2 separate regions of the Homo sapiens genome follow, and region 2 is linked to region 1. The links come from fine-mapping of genetic effects on gene expression. A gene starts in region 1. The other region holds a variant in brackets. All regions are shown on one strand. Distances are from middle to middle. Region 1 holds the start of LRRC8C-DT (LRRC8C divergent transcript). Region 2 overlaps LRRC8B (leucine rich repeat containing 8 VRAC subunit B).

Region 1 (8,340 bases):
TAGCATTAGGAGTGGGCCGGGTGCTGTGCCTCATGCCTGTAATCTCAGCACTTTTGGAGGGGTACGTGTTGTCTGAATTATAAGTGAACTGACAAGGATCTGGAGGGAAACAGGCAGGCTCATGAAGGAGGTAGCTTTTATGCTGAGCCTTGTAGGAGATGCAGAATTTCAGCTGGTGGAGGCTTGGTCAAGGGTGAGGTGTGTGGTGGGGAGAGACTGGCATTGTCATGGTACCCTGAGTGATATACAAGGCTAAGAGATCAGGAGAGGCAGAAAAAAGGAAAGTATGTTTGCCAAAAAATACAAATTCCGATCCATCAACATATTGTTAGTAAAGTAAAAATAAAATAAAAGAGTAAGAGCAAAGGAAAAACTATAGAATGAGTACATGTTTCTGACTCAAGACAACAAAAAAGGATGTGATTCAAAAGTTAAAGATGCTAAGAATCAGATTAGACCTTTGTATAATTACATAAAGAGTGAATCACTGATAGCAATGACTAATCACTACGTGCATGTAAAATATACATAAAGTGAAATACAGCAGAAGTTTCTACCAGTGCTAGGATACACTGGTGTTAATCCTTACTGAGCACCTACTAGGTGACAAGAGCTGTCCTTTACATGCACTATTACAAGTAATCTGCACAGTGATCCAGCTAGGGAGGCTTTATTAATCCCATTATACAAGAGGAAACCAGGGTTCAAAGAAGTTGAATAATCTGACCTCATTTGCACTCCTACTGCACGGCAGAGTCCGAATTTGACAGCAGCTTTTTCTGGAGGCCATTCTCTTTACCCCATGCCAAACCAGAATGATTTATAGTTCAAAAGGAATCAAGTAGATTCAAGGATACCTCCATGGTTATGTAACCCTCATTAGTTGTAATATGCTTTTATGAGTGATCTGAAACTGGAGATACAGTCAACACTCCAGAAATGAAGTATAAAATCTTGGGAGTGTGTTACAGCCCATGAGACCATCATTGTCATGTCAGTGATAATAGCTGATGGGCAGGAGTAAATTGTCCATAAGGTTAAGCTCTGGATCAGTCATTTAAGAGAAATCAGTGGCAAGAACATGGGTTTTAGAAACAGATGGCCTTGATTCAAAATTGGAATTCTGTTATATGGAAAACGCTGGGCAGAAAACTTTACAATCTCTGTTTCCTCATATAGTCACTATGGTGAGTTAACAACAAATTTATATAGAAAAAATAAATAAGCAGCTTTGGATAATAAAAAAAAGTATATCATTAAGACTAAGGAGGCTTGGCTTCATTCAGGCACTAACTTAGCTGCATAGTCTTCAGCCAAATCAGAAACTCTGAACTTCCTTCTTATGTAAAATGTGGATGGCACCATTTACCTTAGGGGTTCATTGTAAGAACCTGAGATAATGTGTATTAGGTATCTAGCATGCAGCTAGATTATGTTATAGCAATGTACCATATTAAATCATTAACACAATTCTTGGCAAAATAAATATAGTTTCCACCTCATTTCATTTTAAACTTAGGCTCGCTCTATTATAATGTCATAGGTGACTATAACTTAATAATACTATAGAGTATTAAAAATCATAACAATTTGGTAAAAATTGAACACTTGGGAGTTAAACATATTTCTAACTTTGTATTGTTTTTTAAAAGATAAACTTCATGGAAATAAAGTGCAACATTTTCATTCATTTATCTTACAGCTCCTAATGCATTATTTTCACTAAAAGCATTCCCTTTTAAAAATACATTTCATTAAAGTGCTTAATCTGAGAAATAATAGATTAGTACTATTAATAAAGGCTTGATTTTATTAATAAGAAAATTGTTAAATATACTTGGTATCTCTGATACAATTGTTGGGTTGATGGGTCCTGTCTGTGCCCAATCTATTATGTGAACCATGGCAAATATCCATCTTTGCAAAACTGCCCTACATCCCCCTCAAAGGAAACAAACTGACCCCAAGACAGAACTTAATCACTCCAGAGTAAAGCAAACCAATTATAGCCTTGGCCTTCCCTGTTAAAGCAAGTCACAAGAAATGCAAATATCCTAGACTAGAGCTGTATACATTTAATGTTTGTTTACACACTCAACACATTGTTTATGAATTGAGCGAGTTTTATGCAGCTCAGATTACGTTTTGGGTTTTCAACAAATTATTTAAAAATAAACAGAATTTATAAATGTATAAAAATTATTGGCTCTGGCGATTTTGCAGCATTGTGCTAACCAAGAGGACTACTCCACTTTTACTCCTTTTTCGTCTAAATGGCATCTTAATGACCTGCCCACGCTGAAGCCTCATCGATGCTTTGGGAAACCATCACATACCTGTCGGGAAATGTGACTGTTGGTTAAGGCTACGTTTCTCACACTACCGCGAAAGAAGTATGTGACTTACAAACGGCTGCGATTTCCTTTACCTATTCCTTCCTTCAAAGGCTGCTTTAAATGGAGGTAATTCAAGCCTCCCCGTGCCAAACACCGGCACTCCAACAAAGATGGATTGGTTCTTATTTTTTACTTTGAGGATGGGAACCTGAAAATGTTTCCTAACGTTTGCTGAGGCTTTAACATGTTTAAGGAATTTGAAACCAAGGGAAGTTTAGCCGTAATACTCTGAAATATCCGCATTAGGATGCGGGCTAGGTGTCCGGCTGTTGCAAAACTACGGAGGATGCGAGGTTTGGAAGAAACTGTTTGGACTTTGCTGTATACCGGGCAGGCGTGGGGGTTGGGGAGGGAAGAACCGGCTGAGGGAGAAAAGAAAGGCATTCGTGTCCACAGAACACATCTAAGGCTCCTGAGTTGCTAACTCCATCCCTAATCATCTCATTGGTGGGAACCAGCTGGAAAGGGAAAGATCAGCGAGCCTAGGCGTGGGATGAAGGCAGCGGTTTTGGCCTCAACCGCTGGCCTAAACACCTGGCTTCTGGGGCCCGCCCGATCAAGCTGAACCCCTTCCCTCCTGTCCTGCAGGTGAGCACACGGTGCTCTCACGTTTCTTCGAGAAACCTTCCAATTCCTTTCCCTGCCCAAAAGTGCTAACTTCAAGGGTTCGGAGGTGGCAGGGGGGTGATAGACCGGAAAGGACTGGCCCCGGGGTCTCAGAGATTTTCGAGGTAGGAAAGAACAACGATCGCCCCGGCCACGGACGCATTTCCCCTCGCGGACCGCCCCCCCACCCCCGCGCCCAGTCTGCAGGACCTGCCGCTGCGGCGCGGCGTTGGGCGCCAGGCTGAGATCCTCGCGCGGCCGCTCGGGCTAGCGCGGATTGGGTGGGGTAGGGGTTGGCGGGCTCCTGAGCCGCAGTAGCGGAAGGTTCCCAGCACCACACGCCGGGCGGGCAACCACATTCTGCCTGTCTGAGAGCCGGGGGGAAGCAAGGACGCGAGTGAGGCGGGGCGAGTCCCGGTCCGGCGCGCACAGCGGACCGAGCGGGTGGCCCTCTGCGGGCTGCCCCTCTCCATCCCTCCGCGGATCCCCCGCCCTTACCTCCGGGCGCGAGAGTGTCGACTGGAGAAGGTGCTAGGGAGCGGCGAGCTGCCTGGGGGTCGGGCTCAGCGGCTGCCAGGGACGGCGGCGTCGCCCGCGGGGTCGCTGCTCATGGCTTGTCGCGCCCGAGCACTGCGGCCGCGGCCACGGCGGCGCCTTCCTCCTACTTCTCTTCGCGGGCTTCCAGCCGGGACGCAGCTAACGCCCCAGCCCCGCAAGCCCTCCTCCCCTCCGCCTCCCCGGCCGCGGACGGAGCCGCCTCCAGCGCCGCCCCGCACGCAGCCCGGCTAGCGGCAGCCAGCGCCGCCCAGCGCCCGGCCCCGGGGTCGCCACCGCCCGCCGAGTCGACTCCGCGGTGCCAGCCCCGCTGTGACGCAGGCCGCGCCGCCCGGGAACTTCCTCCCCTGCAGAGACCACCTCGCTCCCGGGACTCGCCAGCGAGGGATGCCGCCGGCCGCCGGGGGCCTTCTCCAGGACCAGGAGAGAAATCCTCTCTCCGCTTCACGACGCGGCCACTCCCACCCCTGAGACGCCCACCTGGCGGACTCTGAGGGAGGATTCGGCTGCGTCTAATACCACCTCCACCCCTCATCCCTCACAATGCGCGGAAAACCACAGGCGGCTGTGCGCGCAGCGTCGGCTCAGCCACCGCAGCTCCTCCCCTGGGTAAGTTAGAGGGGAGCAGCCACCACTAAAAATAGCCCTTCTGGGAACTCCTCCGAAGGCCAGGGTCAGGATGAAGATAACCCCTCCACAGGAGAAGCGAAGGCCTCCTAAGAGAAGGGTGGGGAGGGGACGGTGGGATAGAATGAGGAAGATGGAGAAGGAGAAAAGCAAAACCCAATATCCTTGGATCATGAAGCCCTTGAGCCCCTTGACAACCAAGTCTCCTTTCAGGCCGGAATCCCCAACTGCACCGCCCCTGCAATACGGGCTAAGGGGCAGATTCCAGGGAGACTCAGTTGGAATGCCCCGCCTACAGCTCCCGCATAAAGGAGTTGACGGTGCACAGCAAAACCACCTGTTGTTTAACGAGTATGGAGGGAGGGGTTCTCTCTCATTGATTGATCTGAACCGTGCTTTTCTTCTCCCCATTTTCCCACCCAATTTCAGGATGAAAAAGCACTCTGACGTCTTGAAAGCTGGCAGCTCTCTGTTTGGAAAATCTCTGCCCAGTGAAAAAATGTACCGACAAGATTACTAAGTAACACAGTCTTCTGGGAATGCCTTATCAATGCCAGCTATTTGAAGAGCACCCAAAGTCAAACTAGTGCTCCGCGCTGGCAGTCTGGAAAAGGCAGATGTATGTGAGTAGAGAAACTGATAGACAACTAGTTGCTGGCCAGTTGGCCTGTTTTCGTGCTACAAGCCTTCAGAAAACAGTCGCCTCCTTTTACCACGTTTCTATTTCTAAACCAAAATGAAAAGGACGTTTGTTCAAAAGATATTCTCTTGGGCTTTACATTGCTTTCCCCCTGCTCACTCAGCAAAATCCTACACTTTTTTTCCAATTCCAATGCTGCTGTTGGGTGTCCTTCCCAGAAGACAACCTTAAATTCTCTTAGGCCTTAGGAGCTGAATCTAACACCAGTCTTAATTAACCTACAACAAGACAAAAATTTAGGTCCGGGCTTACCTCCTAGTCAGCAGATGGGAAAAATTCCTAGAGAGTCTCTGGGAAAAAGGCAAAGGCTAACTTTAGCAGTTTGCTAGAAAAAAAAAAATTCAAGTACCTTGTAAGTCACCAGGGTAGATGCAGCAATACTCTCTAAGGTAGCTTTACCTCTTCAATTCTCTTACCTTACCTGAATTTAAACACAGTGAGGCAAGTACCAAGGTCACAACCCTCCTGTGGAGGGCCTTATTCTGCAAGGGCTCTCTGATATACTTCTATCTTTGTACCGTTGGCACCTGACCACAAGCTTAGGCATCCCTGAAATGCTCCCTTGCTACCCAGTGTCAAGGAATCATTGAACCTTAGACTTTGTACTCAGGTGAACCAGGATGAAATCCCTATTCTTCCAGTTTAAACTTAGGAAATTTACTGTTCTTTTTATCTGCCCCCTCCCCACCACCCACATCCCCTTATCATCCCTATAGGTATAGTACTACAGGGTGCTGTGAGAATTAGCTAATATGCTCAAAGCACCAAGAACAGTGCCAATCACTTTGTAAGTAGTCAGTAAATGAGAGCTACTATTGTACTTAACTACTCTTCACTGAAAGCAAAAGAACCAGGAATAGCAAAAAGGTTTGGAAACCTGGGATCTGAATCCCCTGCAAGTTGAGTCCACCCCAAGTTGCTTTATTGCAATACTTTTGGCTACTCTTGTGTCTGCCTTCTAATTGGATCAACTGGGTAGTTCTTCACGTGTAGGCAGGTGATTCACATGCACATTAATGCTTGAAAGCCACTAGTCTAAAAACTATGCTACACTGGTTAGTTCACCTCTTCTTATTTTGTAGCATGTAAACCTTAAATCTAGTGATCTTACCTCAGTCCACCTAATTCACATTAACATCCACACTTAGCAAGCTCTCTGTAAAGGACTGGTAGAATTAGCAATCAGTCAACTTGAGTGAGGGTCTTAAAGAAGTACAAGGCTTATTCTCCGACTTCAGGGTGTTCATAGTTCATGGGAATCATGCATACACACAAACCAGAATAAACCATTTTGAAGCAAATGTGCTTGAAGTTCAGCACATCTCCAGGAAGGAGAGGGTACTGTGAGCTAGATGAACTGGGTGCACAGACTCTGTCTTGACCTTTCACTTTATACCCAATTCTTTAGGCTAAATTTTGACATTCTAATTGGACTTCCAGAGTTAGTAGTTCTCACACTAAAGACTGTGTAATTACAAGTTAACCATGTACAGGTTGGTGATAGAAGCAGAAGTAGATATTTCTGGGCTATGCAGGGCTATGGTAAGGGATTTGGAATGAAATAGGTCTGGGCTTAAATCTTGTATCTCTAGCTATGAACTTCAGTTTCCTCATCAGTCTATTGGAATATAACTACCTTTTAGGGTTGTGGTGAGACTTAGAATATCTGTAACCCCTCTAGTGGGTTGTATGGTAACAGCAATTGTGTCACATTGTTGTTTTGTTGTTAGCTGTAAGAAAACTCAGGCTGGGCTGAGTTGTTCCTTGAAGGCGTAATTAATTAATTTTTTCTGAGACAGAGTCTCATGCTGTGTGATCTCGCTGACTGCAACTTCCGCCTTCCAGGTTCAAGCAATTCTCCTTGCCTCATCCTCCTGACTAGCTGGGATTACAGGTGCCCGCCACCACGCCCAGCTAATTTTTGTATTTATTTATTTTTTTTAGTAGAGATGGGTTTTCACCATGTTGGCCAGGCTGGTCTCAAACTCCTGACCTCAGGTGATCCACCCGCCTTGGCCTCCCAAAGTGCTGGGATTATAGGCATGAGCCACCACGCCTGGCCTGAAGGCATAATTTAAAAGTCACCTTCTCTATGAAGCCTCCACAGGTTCTAGGCAAGTATAACTCTTCCTTCCTTGTGTGACCACAGCACTTACCATGGCATGCTCTCATTTGTCTCTTTACATGCCTCTTCACTACAGAGTCTGGGAGCCTCTCCAGGGCAGGGCTGTATCTTGATTCACTTTTATGTCCATTATCAATACCCTGCACAGGACCTGATATTAAATATTGAAATAATGAGTTTTTAAGTGTTTCAGTTTCTTGTATTGGTTCTGACTTTCAGTATAACTCTTATTATACTACAGGCTCTAAAACCTGAACCCTTTAGCTCATAAATAATTCATACTAAATTTATGTATTATGTATATGTATCTGCTTAAACCTTGATGATGTCAATGCTGGGATTGTTCTTTCAGATCAACCTGCTATTCTTGTTTTGTTTTGCATTTGATTTCAGTTGATCCTACCTGGTAAGAGTGCAAGTAAAATCTACATTCTAAACCAAAACCACCAGCAGGATTTTACGCTGCATTCTCTATCCACCCTGTGCACATCTGCTCCCCATACCATTTCTGAGCTTTGTGGGAAGAGGCTGAGCTAAAAGAAAACGTTGTTGTTTTAAGTTTCAGTTGTTTAGACTGTTGCAACCATTAGCACTTTCTGAATTAATACCTGCAAGATAAATGCTACCTTTAGCAACAGTTTTGAAATCCTTGACTCTGTGCCATTAAAAATGCTAGACAGGGAAAAATAAAACCTTCCCTAGAAAATTCTTTTGCCCAGAAAGTTGCCTGAGAGGTAATGTCAAATGTGGACTTGATCCCAAAATGGCAGTTGAATTTGTACCAGAGGAGATGGTGGTCTATTGGGGCTAAAAATGATACCCCAAAATGAAGGAATAAAAAGCAGCCTCAGAAGCAAAGTCTCTGTCTAGCTTTCTCCTGCCCTCCTGTCTCTCACTCTCTTATTCTCCCTTGAAGCAAGCCATAGAAACTGGAATCCTTCTTCCCTGAGGTGGGTCATATAAACCAGAACCTTTTCCCCAAAACCAGCCTTAGAGCCTAAACATTTTACTCTAATCTTCTCCCTCCCTTCCCTTTCTCTTTCTTGCTAACTGCTGGCCATAAAGAAATTAAGACCCTCATTCCAGGGGGTCCTACCCCATACCTGGGAGGAAGGAATGTTATATCGAAAGGCCAAGAAGAAATCTGAACAGACAGGCCTTGCTGGATTTCCCCATTCCCCTTGCTGGATCATACCCCTTTTGTCCAATCATATTTCTACACAGCTTTCCATACTTCATTGAACCCAAGCATAAAAATGGGCCAAGAGAAGGTGGCTCATACCTATAACCCCAGCATTCTGGGAGGCCGAGGTGCAACATCACTTGGGCCC
Region 2 (8,340 bases), 91 kb after region 1:
CCAATGAACCAGTGCCTACTAGCACTCACCAAGGCTCCACAGCATACATTCACAAATCCTCCCCCACCATCAAATTTGGTACCAGGCCGCTTTTCCAACCCTTCCTACTATGCCTTTGAACATGCTCTCTATTCTGATAGGCTAGCCTAACCTATTGTTCAAAAAACACATAATATACCATTTTTATTAAAAAAAATTCTTACTATGGAAATTTTCTAATGTATATAGAAGTATGAATAATATTATAAGGGTCCCCCATATACCATTTACCCAGCTCCAACAATGATCAATTCATATCACACCCATGCCAGGTGTCTTGAAGCAAATCCTGGATGTATCGTTTCATCCGCAATGATTTCAGTACTGCATACATTCTTTCCTATACACCTCTGCTCAAACATTTCCCGTCCACCCCCTTCTTCAACTTTCCATATCTTATCACATCCTGCAAGCCTCACCTCCTACGATGTTTCCACTGAACTTGTGAGTCATATGCCTTCTTGGGACATCTGTCTTATTGTTGTCTTCTTGTTCTTAACTCTTAAGTTGAACACTCACTGTCATTGGCCTTGAAAGCAGGAAACCTCTCTCACCATACATATAGTGCAAGAATTCACGTTTAACAGGGAAAGAACCAAAGGATATCCAATTGGTTTTATAGAGTTTATTAAAATTTGACACAACAATTTTATTCAGCATATTAACCAAATTCTGTATGTGGGAAATGTCTTGGTAAATGCCTTGGACAGGGCATGCAGACACAGTATGACAGGGTGGAAAGAAGACTGGACACAGAGCTAAAAGGCCTGGTTCTTGTCCTGCCCTTCTGTTTACATGCTATTTTGGGTATATTGTGTAACTTCTCTGAGGAATAGGAATTAATTTCAGTCATTCTTCCTCTCTCCCTCTCTAAATTGTCGGAATCAAATGTGATTATTATGTAAAGATGATTTTATAACTGATAAAGTACACTGTTGATGCTCATCTTTACCTGTAAATGCAGAAATCATTGACCATATCACTAGACAACAAGAAGAGCTATTGGTTTGAATCCTAAATGTATAAGGAGAATAAATTTAAACTCCCAACAGGAAAAAAGGGAATGTGATAGTGCAGAGATCAGATGGGATTAAGAATCAAGAAAACTCACCCTGGGAGGAATGTAACAGCATACCTAGTATCTTTTTTAGACCTCAAAACCACTGCCTTATAATTAAACAAATTAGAAATTACAAAGAAAGCAATATATGTTTTCAACTATGTAAGAAAACTTCCTATTACGTTAAAAATTGAATTAAAAGGCAAAATTCAACATCTGATTTCCTCTTCAAATAAAACTTTCCAATTGTATCCAATAAAATGGTTATAATTTTGAGTTTATGCTCTCCTAGGACATTCTCAATGTCTTTGACTTCTCAGTTTTGCATTCTGCTTTTCCAAAGGAAAATCATTCATATCAAACTGCAAAGATCTATCATGTTACATCAAACAGTACTTAAAGTCAATATAATTGAGGTTTTTTCTTCCTCCAGTAGAAAAGAGGATAGATGGATTTATCAAGAAAGCACTGTTCTACAAACCATCCTGCAAACTTCACTACCATCCTGCGAGAGATCTGCAAATAGGCTTAGCCCATCTAAAGTACCCACTGGGATATTATTATTATTATAAGGTTTCTTACAAGCAAATAAAAATTACAGGCATTGGAGAAAAGGCTTAAATTTTGTAAAACTCTGAATAATCTAGGCCAACATAGGAAAAGGATTTTTCAACTTTGGACATTAATATGACTTAGCAATAGTCGATAAAAACAACAGCTGCTGAGCCTGGTAAATCCAAATGAGATTATTAGGTCAAAATCATAGAAATACACAGAGAACATTCCAAAATTCCCAGCACACTGACAATAAAGCACCCAAACCAGAATCTCATTAGGGAAAGAAACATTTTGTTTAGAAATAATTTTTTTTTACTACGACTTTACCATGTGTAACATCTCTGGGATGTTACTAGAGAGGAAAACAATAAGAATCAAAAGTGTAAACTACTGAACAATAGCTTCCTTCATTTCCCTTCCCTTCTCATGAAACCCTACTGCACACACCAAATAACTATGTATTCTTACACCTTGTTCTGCATAAACAGACATTTATAGAGATTTTAAAAATCATCTGGGCGCAGTGGCTTATGATGGTAATCTCAGCACTTTGGGAGGCCAAGGAGGGAGAATCACTTGAGTCCAAGAGTTCAAAACCAGCCTGGGCAACATAGCAAGACTTCATCTCTACAAATAATTAATAATAATAAAAATTAGCCAGGCTTGGTGGCATGCAACTGTGGTCCCAGCTACTCAGGAAGCTGAGGCAGGAGGATAGCCTGAGCCTGGGAGATCGGGGCTGGAGTGAGCCATGACAGTGCCACTGGACTCCAGCCTGGGCAACAGAGCAAGACCCCAACTCAAAAAAAAATGGCCAGGGATGGTGGCTCATGTCTGTAATCCCAGCACTTTGGGAGGCCAAGGTGGGTGGATCATCTGAGGTCAGGAGTTTGAGACCAGCCTGACCAATGTGGCAAAATCTCATCTCTACTAAAAAAAAAAAAATTAGCCAGGGCTGCTGGCATGTGCCTGTACTCCCAGCTACTCAGGAGGCTGAGGCAGGAGAATCACTTGAACCCGGGAGGCAGAGGTTGCAGTGAGCTGAGATTGTGCCACTGCACTCCAGCCCAGGTGACAGAGCAAGACTCCAACTTAAAAAAAAAAAAAATCAGTTTTTCAAAACTTAGATAATATTAGAATAAATTTTTTCTTGTATAATAGATTGTTTTATAATAAGAAAACTACCACTCACTGGCGTTTGTTACCTTCATGCACAACAGAAAAAGAATCAAAGAAGTTTTAGACTCCTAACAAATGAAATATGAATTTATACCTTAGACTTATGTTACTTTGAATACTTTGAGTATTGTTACCCATGATGACCAATTAGCATAAAAGACTTTTCAAGGTTATAGTCTACATGTCTCAAAATATACATTAAAAATGTGAAGGGCCATAGTTTTCTTTTACTTGTCTATTTACTGAATAAGGCTGAATTTCAGAAAATGTGAAGATTGAACAAGTTTCAGGCTATAACGAAAATTTAGGGGCTTTTGTGATCTGGTCCTGAGACAGCTATAATTTTTTCTATTTTGTCAATAGTGCTTTTATTAGATCAACAACTATGCAAGTCTAATTTTTCATCATTAAGTAATTTGACCCTACTTTAAAAATTACCAGGAAAAAGTAAATTTAAGTCTAGTTAACTGAACTGACAACTTACAAAAGATAAATCAGGTGGAGCTTGCCTTAATAGGTCCCCCCAGTACATAAGACAAAACAAGTCTAGTGTGAGGACACATAGGCCCTAACAAGTAGCTGATGTGAGGTTGAAGTAGTTGAATATGCTTGTATATTATAACCATAATGGATGCCAATACTCATGATGAGATAACTTTATGTTAAGTATTTTTATAAGTGCTTATATAAATTATTTAAAACTCTCAACAACCCCATGAGATTTTCTCCACTACAGATTGGCAACTGAGACAGTTATGTGACTTATCTAAACATGCACAAATAGTAAATTCATAATAGTAAAACGAGCATCAATATGAATATTCTTCAAAGAGATCTCTGAGAAAAATAAAAAGTAGCTTAGCTCCATGGAATGAACAACAGGCTAAACATGGATTCATTCATTCATTCATTCATTCACTCAGTCATTCAGTAAATATTTAGTGGCTGTTATGTGGTAAATGGCCCTGGAGAAGCAACAAAATAAACAAAACCCATGATGTCCTCAAACAGGTGCTATCTCTACCTCATGGAATTTATAGTCTGGTGACAGAGACAAAGATTAAACAAATCCTCAGTTATTTTATTATAATCACAGTAAGTGCTTCAGATGCTGTGGGGCAGGTAGAGGAACCACCTTGAAGACTCTGAAACTCATAGGAGACTGAGCCACTGTGAGAACTGAGCCAGAGAGCTCAAAAGCTTGCCCTAGCAGATGACACTCTTCTCTAGTCCCTTAGCTAAAGGTAGGTGCAGAAATAAATAATAACCAAGATGTCATGAAAGCAAGACATGTTCAAGGCCAGGAGGTCTCTGTCTAGTTCCATATTTTTGGTACACGAGAGTAGCCTTGGGTTTGTGTTCAAGTTTCAAATGCTCCCAGGATTTTACAACTTTTAAAGGTAAAAGCCATATATTACATTAAAAAATTTTAATCTGTGAATTAGTCATTTAAATAATATAATTTGTACATTATATCAAGAGAACAGTTACTAAAATTATCAGGAAAATTTCATTCTTGGTATAGTCAATGCTTTCTGTTCTGAAGAATGTGTGAAGGTGGCTACTTCAGGCATGTGGTAGAGTAGAAGTCAGCAAAAAGATGGAGGAGACTGAACTCTTATCCTGCCTACCATCTGCCTTAACTTTAGCCAAGTTATGGAGTCTCTCAGACAGCCAGCTTTTTTTTTTTTTTTTTTTTTTTTTTTTTTTTTTTTTTTGAGACGGAGTCTCCCTCTGTCGCCCAGGCTGGAGTGCAGTGGCGGGATCTCGGCTCACTGCAAGCTCCGCCTCCCGGGTTCACGCCATTCTCCTGCCTCAGCCTCCCAAGTAGCTGGGACTACAGGCGCCCGCCACTACGCCCGGCTAATGTTTTGTATTTTTAGTAGAGACGGGGTTTCACCGTTTTAGCCGGGATGGTCTCGATCTCCTGACCTCGTGATCCGCCCGCCTCGGCCTCCCAAAGTGCTGGGATTACAGGCGTGAGCCACC[G/A]CGCCCGGCCAGAAAGCCAGCTTTTTAATTGATAAAAATAGAAATAACTCTACCTGGTCTACTTTCTATGTTCACAGTGATGACAACATCAAAAGTGATGGGAACTCTCTCTGCCCAGGAGGTTTTAGAGAACAGCAATCCATGAAAGAATAAGCTCCTCACAAATACAACCTCTATTCTCTCTAGGCCAAGAAACCTTACCCAATGAGCCCATAATTTTTTAGCTTTCTGGAAGACAATGAGCTAAGCTGCCTGGAGGGATTACCTGGTTTCAGCAAACCTCTCCTGTGCAAAGTGTCATTATTCTTCCATAGAACAAATAGTACTTCCCCCAAATCTTTTCCCATTTCCAGTCAGAAGACATAAATGTTTAGAAGCTATAATTTAAAAAGTTGTGCTAATATAAAGCACACTCACTGGTAACCTGAAATTTGACAATTTGACCCCAAATCATCTGGTTCAAAACTTAATCCACTCCTTCTCTGAAAAAGTTAGAAGCTATAGTAAAACTAGTAAAATGTCAGTAATCACAGTTTGACTTAAGTAATTACCATAGGATCTTCTGATAAAAGGAAATAGAATATTTAATCCTATGACTTTTTTCTAAACTAACTTTTCTACTAGTCTCCTCTACTTCATCCCACTGCCCTACTTGGTCTCGCAATATGATCTCTCTCATCTTCAGCACACCCTCCACACAGTTGCCAGTGTTACTTCCCAAAACTAATCTGATATAATCTCTCAAAACCTTCCTTGGGGCTCCTGGGCTCTTCCTGAGGAAGCTGTATGCTTTGTATAGAGATATAAATGTATCTCCAAGCTCACCCCTGGCAGAGGCTGTGCCACGGTCAGCACTGGCTGTTCCAACTCCCACTCCAATGCTCTTGTTCTTTCATTCGTGTCACAAAGGGGAAAAGCTGACATGACTGGGGAAGGTTACACTGTGTGGGTTTTTTAAAACTCAAAGCGTGGGGTTGATTCAGACATATTTTCACATCACTGTTAGGGCCATTACAACAGATAACAAAATTGGCAAAGTATACTTCTTTTGCTCGTCAAGTAAAAAGAAAAGAGCCACATAGGCAAAGAAACAAGAATTTAGAGGTAGAAGGAGTTTCAGGCCCTCATACTACAATGTAATGGACACATGGATCATTCAGCTTCTATAGCTCCAAATATTTGATTCATGTATCACAACTTATATTCTAAACATAGTATTATTTTAAAACTATACAGGTCCCTAAACATAAAAATATAAGCAACATAAAACTTAAAAAATAATAAACTTAAAAATAATTGTCCAGGTGATGGAATTGAGTAGCTGGAACACTTTATTTAATCTTAGGTAATTGATTAAAGATATCCAGAAATGATACGTGAAGATGTAATAAATAAAATAATAGACATGCATGTAGAAGGTTAAAAACAATTTATGGAAAATTTCTCCTGGATCTTATGGAAAGCTAACTTTCACAATATCTGCTGAATATTTAATTATAATTCTAAAACAAGCACAAAATAAGCATGCATTAGCTGTTCAACTACTTATTTTTAAAAGTTCAATGGCCCCAATGGCCAGGAGCAAATATTGCAAGTTATTAGTAATCCAGATTTATTTTTATTTAATTTAAAAAAAATCTAACATAGGCTAAGTACCTTGAAGTGGGAGAAACCTAGCTGATAAATCTTTCTATTGAAAGGTTAAGTTGAACAATGCAAAATCAAGCAAAAGGATCAATGACTGGTGAACATTACAGCTGGCTTGATTCCCTCCAATGGAATATGCTTCAGCAGAAGTATCTGTCCTTTGCAATGTGTTGTTTCTGTGGCCCTAATTTCTATATTACACTTTCCATGCAGACTCCCATTAGTCTTTCTTCACCTTCATGACTCCTGGGTAGAATAAGGACTGATAAAGTAAAAGACGATGGGAATTGTAGGGTCCAAATCAGCCCATAACCCCAGTCCCTATACCCCCACAATGTTGGGCTGGTCCAGTTCTATCATCAGTGAAGAAAAAGCAACGCCTGAAAATCCTAGATCTCTTTTTAGCATTGTAAACCATGTAGGAGATGCTTATTACATCTGCTTTGTTCTCTATTTCTATGGTGCCTGTCACCATAGTAACAGGGCATACAGATGAAAAAGTAGGCTAGAAATACCCAAATATGGGGGGCGGAGAGGGCAATATGGGGGAAAGGGCCTTTCACTGATTAGGAAAGAAAAGGCTAGAATTTCTTCTTTCAGAGTTGTCAATGCATTAAGGGGTAATTCTAACTAGAAAAATAGGTTTTCTTTGCCTTTAAGAGAGCAACAATAGAAAATACCCTAAAATGTCAATAAATATCAATGTTTCTAGGAGGTAGTCTTGCTAGGCTTCTGAGATTTTAAAGCCAGATGTATTAAAAACCTTGAAGGGGCTGGGTGCGGTGGCTCACACCTGTAATCCCAGCACTTTGGGAGGCCAAGATGGGTGGATCACCTGAGGTCAGGAGTTTGAGACCAGCCTGGCCAACATGGCGAAACCCCATCTCTATTAAAAAATACGTAAATTAGCCGGGTGTGGTGGTGGGTGCCTGTAGTCCCAGCTACTTGGGAGGCTGAGGTAGGGGAATCGCTTGAACCCGGTAGGTGGAGGTTGCAGTGAGCTGAGATCATGTCACTGCATTCCAGCTTGGGCAACAAAGTGAGGCTCTGTCTAAAAAACAAACAAACAAACAAAAAAAAACCTCGAAGATGCTAATTTAAACCTTTAAACAGCATCTAGTTTTGGAAATGACATACTCATGCTGCAGTGTGGATGACTGCTACTTAAAATATTTAGTTACTTTGTAGTACTAAAAGTTGACACATCCGTTAAGGAAGTGTGGTTGGGAAGATAACTTACTACAATGAGTATTTCCCTAAAAGTGACAAGTTTATCTTCCAAGTCTCTGTATAAAATGTCCCCAAAGGAAATCACTGGGGTTGGGGTGGGGGATGACAGTCACTTCACTCTAAGGGAGTCACTGCTTCTATGAAAGAAAGAGGAACATTCTCTCCTGTCTACTGGTTCAGACCTTCAAAGGCACTATCAGTTCCTAACTGTTCTTTGCCATGCCAAAATTTCATCTATAAGGAAAGAGAAATCTTCCCACTTCAAGACCTCTGTTTCTTATTTTGCTTTTTTTCTCTCCTGCCACCAGCCAGAGTTCTCCTTGCTCATAATTTTCTAGGACATTTGGAATACCTGAAATGTTCTTTATCTTGTGATACTGGTCTCCTGAGTAGCTGGGATTACAGGCTCCAGCCACCATGCCTGGGTCCAAAAGAGTGGTATGTTCTAACCATGCTCTTTCAGAGTGAAGTTTCTTTCAGAGTAAACAGGACAAGGAGCCCTACCAGCCACATACTTGGGGAGGTTTTACTCTGTGTAAATAAAAATGATGCATGTCTTAATCCATTCAGGCTCCTATAACAAAATACCATGAACTAGGGTGGCTAATAAACAACAAACATTTATTTCTCACAGTTCC

What was found. PIP is the estimated chance that this variant, and not a neighbour inherited with it, causes the effect.
Region 2: its variant is fine-mapped to the expression of LRRC8C-DT in CD4 T cells (BLUEPRINT, PIP 0.95).

Annotation. Positions count from the first base shown.
Region 1 is chr1:89,628,483-89,636,822 of GRCh38, reverse strand. It overlaps LRRC8C-DT (LRRC8C divergent transcript), which reads left to right and starts at 3,929. Exons shown (of 3, transcript NR_033981.1): 1 at 3,929-4,166; 2 at 4,614-4,807. It overlaps LRRC8C (leucine rich repeat containing 8 VRAC subunit C), which reads right to left and starts at 3,703. Exons shown (of 3, transcript NM_032270.5): 1 at 3,501-3,703. RefSeq lists enhancers at 2,732-2,781, 2,812-2,861 and a silencer at 3,242-3,901.
Region 2 is chr1:89,537,925-89,546,264 of GRCh38, reverse strand. The region is part of intron 1 of LRRC8B (leucine rich repeat containing 8 VRAC subunit B); the gene reads right to left. LOC124904216 (a long non-coding RNA gene) reads left to right here. Exons shown (of 3, transcript XR_007066214.1): 3 at 1-134. Among named protein-coding and RNA genes, the nearest start is that of LRRC8B, 17 kb to the right of the region's middle. The variant G/A (reference allele first, on the strand shown) is at 4,826.